Regions from separate parts of the Homo sapiens genome. Here region 1 is linked to region 2. The links come from fine-mapping of genetic effects on gene expression. Tissue or cell type: atrial appendage. Region 2 holds a variant in brackets; the other region holds the start of a gene. All regions are shown on one strand. Distances are between the middles of the regions.

Region 1 (2,757 bases), 34 kb before region 2:
AGGATGCAAGTGCGACGACCAATACAAATATCTGAGCATTCAATGGAGTTTTTCCAAACTTCTAGCCTGTTTCTGGGGTGATTTTTTTTCTTAGGATTTAGCAGTACTCCACCGCGCTACAGCAGTTAGCATTTCTAAAGCACACACTCCAACACCCTTCGGCCGTAGCACATTCAATCCCTCCGCCGGGGCGTGGGGGTCTCCTCCCCTCCGAGCACAGTCCCCGGCTTCCCGATCTCCTCTGCCCCATCCCCCCGCCTTCCAAGCACATTGTGCTCACTCTTCCAGGCAGCTCTTTCAGCGGCCGGGCAGTAGCAGGGTTCCGAGCCCGTCTTCTCCGGGGCGGTCACACGTGTCCATTCCCTGGGGTTGGGGATCGCTCTTCCCGCTTGGCTGCTGATTGGTGCCTCCCCCTACCCCACCCTTCCCGCCGCTCTCCAGCCTCCATCCTACTTCGTTCCAGCTCAATCAGCCCCACCGCCTTCTTCCCTCGGAGAAAAAAGCCACTTCAGAGCTCCTTGGGCGCCGTTCTCGGCTGGAATAAAAGCGTTAAGAAACAGGTGGAAAGCACTTCACTTCTCTAGGCTTCATATTTCTAGGGTGGACAGCCCGCTCCTGCTCCGGCTCTGCCCTCGGCATCAATAATAACTGAACTCCCACACGTGCACGTTTCTGTCTCTAGCCCGACCGAAAGGACCACCCCGCGGGCCCTTTAAAAGGACGCGACCACTCAGGCCAAGTGGGGGTGGGAGAGCTCCTGGCCGTCCTCCCTTGGGAAAGTGCTTCAACTCCCCAGTCCCAAAGTCCTGGAGGGCGGAGGGCGCCTCGTGAGAGTTCTCGGGGGTGCGGCCCGCGCCCCCTGGGTCCTGCGGATCTGGGCCCGGGGGCGCGCGCCCCGCCCCTCCCCCTCCCTGGCGGTGCAGCTGTCCGGGCGGGGGTGGGGCGGGGGCGGGGGTTGTTGTTGTGGCGCGGGCAGCCCCGCCCCCTCCTCGTGGGCGGCCCCTCCCCCAGGCCCCGCGTCCGGCCCCTCCGCCCCTAGCCCCATCTGTTTCTCCGGCGGGGACTCGATTATATTGTAGGGGACTGGGGGCGGCCGCCGCCGCAGCCGCGGGATGGGGCGAGCGCGCGGACCCCGCGGGCAGCCGCAGCCGCAGCCGCCTCAGTAGTTCGGGCCCCCGCGCCGCCGCCCCCCGCCCGGCGCCCGCCCTCGGCTCCTGCACTCGCCGAGCGGCGGCAGCAGCGGGAGGAGCGCCCCGCCGCCCCCGCCGAGGACCGCGCGGAGGCTGCGGCGCTGCCGCGGCGGGAGTCCCAGGTCGGCGGGCAGAGCGCGGGCAGCGAGGGGCCGCCGCCTGTGCCGCAGCGGGGAGATGTGCCCAGAGGAGGGCGGCGCGGCCGGGCTGGGCGAGCTCCGCTCCTGGTGGGAGGTCCCGGCCATCGCGCACTTCTGCTCGCTCTTTCGCACCGCGTTCCGCCTGCCCGACTTCGAGATCGAGGTGAGTGGCCGCGCGGGCGGGAGGCGGCGCGCTGCGCCCCCTGCTCCCCCTGCCCCGCGCGGGGTGTCCCGGGCCGTCGCGCAGAGGGGCCGGGGCCCGAGGGACTTCGGCCGGGAGTCGGGGGCCAGGAGGAGGGCGCAAAAGGGCAGGAGGGCGGGCGGGGGCCGCCGGGCTGTGCCCGGGTGCCGAGGGGCGTCGGGCCGGGGACGCCGGATCCTGGGGTGGAGGAGCAGGCACCGCGAGGGCGGGGCGGGCCCGTGCTTTTGTGGGAGAGGGAGCGGGAGCGGGACCCGGCGACCCTCCCGGGACTTCTCCGGTGGGCTGGGGCTGGGTGTGGGCGCGAGGGCTGCGCGCGCTCGCCGCCCGGTGCCATTGAGGCGCGAGCCAGCTGCTCCGGCGGGGCCGGGCGCGGGGGGGGGGCCCGCGCGGGATTAACTCGGACCGGGGCGGGAGTCGGCCGCGGCCGGCGGGGAGGGCTAGCCCCGCTCTGGCGGGCGGGCGCGTGGCAGGGGCTCCCGGAGGCCCCAAGCTCCCGGGAGGCGCTCCGGCCAACTTCGGGCCGGTGGGGACCGGGCCTGGGCGCGGGGCTCTGGAGGTGTGGAAGGAAAGTTTGGGACTCCGTTATTCTTCCACAGCGTCCTTCCTCCCGTAATATCCAGCCTCTTTATCGCGGGGCTCGGGAGCCCTTGGAGTTGATCTCGCCACCATTATCCCCCCGGGCGAGCGCGGAGGACGGGCTGGCCATTCTGGCCAGGCCGGAGGTGTTTTCCAGCCCGGGGCTTTGTGATAACTGGGCCGAAACCCGAGGGTCCTGGAGCGCGGCGGGTGGCGGGAGCTTGCGGAGCGCGGCGCACTCGGCGGCCAGGCATCGGCCAGCCCAGCGGCAGCCCCCTTTCTCCTATTTTTATTTTTATTTTTGGAAGGAGCTGAGAATTAGTCGATTGGTTGGCAGGTTGAATTGCCTTCTCTTCTATGGCAATATGTGTCGTGACTTTTCACCTTTTGCCTTTGGACAAAGGTGAATGGCAACTGCGTTGGTCAGTTTTTGTTTTCTGTTCTGCGGATGGGTTCGCCGACGCAGTAATCAAAATTAGAGCCACTCTTTTGGAAGAGCAAATCGTTGTTGTTGCCTCCCCAGCCCCACGGATCTTACTTTGTGCCATTTTCGGGTTGATTTTAACTCGTTTATTTCAGAGCTCTTTGCCTCACCTTTATTTTTAGATTTAGTCGTGTTTGCTGAAATATCAGTTGCTTCTTCTGTGAA
Region 2 (2,757 bases):
TCCTCTCATGTTTAATCTCTTATAATCATGGTAAATTTGTTAAAACTAAGACATTCACATTGGTGCAGTACTATGAACTAAACTTCAGACTGTTTAGATTCCAACAGTTTCCCAATCTTTTCTTTTCTTTCTTTCTTTCTTTTCTTCTTTTTTTTTTTTTTTTTTTGGAGACGTAGTTTCACTCTTGTTGCCCAGGCTGGAGTGCAGTGGCGCAATCTCGGCTCACTGCAACCTCCGCCTCCCGGGTTCAAGCAGTTCTCCTGCCTCAGCCTCCTGAGTGGCTGGGATTACAGGCATGTGCCACCACGCCCAGCTAATTTTGTATTTTTAGTAGAGACGGGGTTTCTCCATGTTGAGGCTGGTCTCGAACTCCTGACCTCAGGCGATCCACCCGCCTCGGCCTCCCTAAGTGCTGGGATTACAGGCGTGAGCCAGCGCACCCGGCAGTTTCCCCATCTTTTCATTTCAAGATTTGTTCCTGCATTCCACCTGACATCGCATGTCTCCTTAAGTCTGTTGTCATCAGCGTGGACTCATTGATACTTATCCTTTGGGTTTGAATCTAATACTGTTTACTTAGCTGCTCAAATTATTTCAAGCTTTGGCCATTGGAAATTCTTTCAGGTTGACTCCTTTCTCCTTTAGACATGTCCTCATTTTTTTCTTTTGGTACTGCCATTGTTTGGCTATACCCACTTTTTATCCATTCACCAGATGATGTATTGTTTTTGCTTTTGGATTGTTTTTGTTTGGGGCTATTATAGATAATAGCTGCACGTATTTGCTTGTAAGTGTGTGCTTTCTTTTTTTCTTGGACAAATACTTAGTAGTAGAATTGGAGTTATGTTTTAACTTCTAAAGAAACTGGCAAACTTGTTTTCCAAAGTAAACACACCAGTTTGTTTTCAACAGTAGTGAATAAGGGGCTCTAGTTTTTTCACATCATCAATACTTGTTATTTCCTGTCCTTTTGCTTATCACTATTCAGTAGTGGGGGGCGAAGGGCTATTTTAATGTGGTTTTGATCTGCATCTCCCTTATCATTAATAATGTTCACCTTTTTCTGTGTTAGCTATTTATATCTTTGGTGATCTTCTAGTTAAGGTATTCTGCTCATTTTAAAATTGGACTCTTTGTCTATTGAGCTGTTATATATTCTGGTTTTGCTTTTTCCTAATCTAAGGTCACAAAGGTTTGTTTCTTACATTTTCTTCTAGAAGTTTTATTGTTTTAGATTTACCATTTAAGTCTGTGCTTCATTTTGAATTGATAATTTGCATATGATATAAAGTACTGATCGAAGTTGGTGGGGTTTTTTTTGAGTGGGGAGGGGGCATGTGTTTAGTAGCATTTGTAGATAAGACCACCCTGGCCGGGCACAGTGGCTCACACCTGCAATCCTAGCACT[TTGGGAGATG/T]GAGTCAGGAGGATCACGAGGTCAGGAGTTTGAGACTAGTCCAGCCAATGTGGTGAAACCCCGTCTCTGCTAAAAATAACAAAAATTAGCCGGGCGTCATGTTGCACGTCTGTACTCCCAGCTACTTGGGAGGCCGAGGCAGAAGAATCTCTTGAACCCAGGAGGTGGAGGTTGCAGTGAGCCGAGATCGTGCCACTGCACTCCGGCCTGGATGACAGTGCGAGACTCTGTCCCCATCCCCCCGACCCCCCTGCCAAAAAAAAAAAAAAAAAGACTATCCTTTATTAGTTGCCCAAGTCAGTTTTCCATATACATGTGGGTTCATTTCTGGACCCTGTTCTTTCTTTTTTTTTTTTTTTTTTTTTTTGAGACGGAGTCTCGCTCTGTCGCCCAGGCTGGAGTGCAGTGGCGGGATCTCGGCTCACTGCAAGCTCCGCCTCTCGGGTTCACGCCATTCTCCTGCCTCAGCCTCCCCAGTAGCTGGGACTACAGGCGCCCGCCACTACGCCCGGCTAATTTTTTGTATTTTTAGTAGAGACGGGGTTTCACCGTTTTAGCCGGGATGGTCTCGATCTCCTGACCTCGTGATCCACCCGCCTCGGCCTCCCAAAGTGCTGGGATTACAGGCGTGAACCACCGCGCCTGGCCCTGGACCCTGTTCTATGTCATTGTTCACTCTGTTCTGTTTTCAAGACAATATCACAGTATCTTAATTAGTGCAGCTTTTAATAAGTAGTGAAATCAAATAATGTTAGTCCTCTCACTTTGTTCATTTTCAAAGTTGCTTTGGCTATTTTATATTTTTTATATTTCCATATGAATTTTAGAATTAGCTTATCAGTTTCTACAAAAAAAGCCTGCTAGCATTTAGATTGGAGTTGTATTGAATATCTAGGTCAATTTGTAGAAAATGGGCCTCTTAACACTATTGAGTCTTCTGACCCATGATGATGGTACCTCTCTCTCTCTAGGTTTTCTTTGATTTCTGACAGAAAAGTTTTATATTCAAATTCTCAACTCTTTAGGTATCTCCCATCTTTTGTCAGATTTATCCCAAAGTATTTCATTCTTTTTGATGCTATTATACATTTTTGAAAGTTTTAGGCCAGGCATGGTGACTCACACCTGTAATCCCAGCACTTTGGGAAGCTGAGGCAGGCGGATCACCTGAGGTCAGGAGTTCAAGACCAGCCTGGCCAACATAGTGAAACCTTGTCTCTACTAAAAAATACAAACAATTAGCTGGGCATGGTGGTGGACGCCTGTAATCCCAGCTACTCAGGAGGCTGAGGCAGGAGAACCGCTTGAACCTGGGAGGTGGAGGTTGCAGTGAGCCGAGA

Which allele goes with the higher level. Positions count from the first base shown, and alleles are read on the strand shown. Sizes are in standard deviations (SD) of each study's normalised expression.
In carriers of allele T in region 2, the expression in atrial appendage of the gene that starts at base 1,044 in region 1 tends to be higher than with TTGGGAGATG alone (small effect, 0.20 SD a copy in GTEx).

The links. PIP is the estimated chance that this variant, and not a neighbour inherited with it, causes the effect.
Region 1: CECR2 starts here. The variant in region 2 is fine-mapped to the expression of CECR2 in atrial appendage (GTEx, PIP 0.94).

Annotation. Positions count from the first base shown.
Region 1 is chr22:17,368,417-17,371,173 of GRCh38, forward strand. CECR2 (CECR2 histone acetyl-lysine reader) reads left to right here and starts at 1,044. Exons shown (of 19, transcript NM_001290047.2): 1 at 1,044-1,493. The coding sequence starts at 1,368. RefSeq lists silencers at 1,302-1,371, 1,382-1,481.
Region 2 is chr22:17,402,608-17,405,364 of GRCh38, forward strand. The region is part of intron 1 of CECR2 (CECR2 histone acetyl-lysine reader); the gene reads left to right. Among named protein-coding and RNA genes, the nearest start is that of CECR2, 35 kb to the left of the region's middle. The variant TTGGGAGATG/T (reference allele first, on the strand shown) is at 1,409.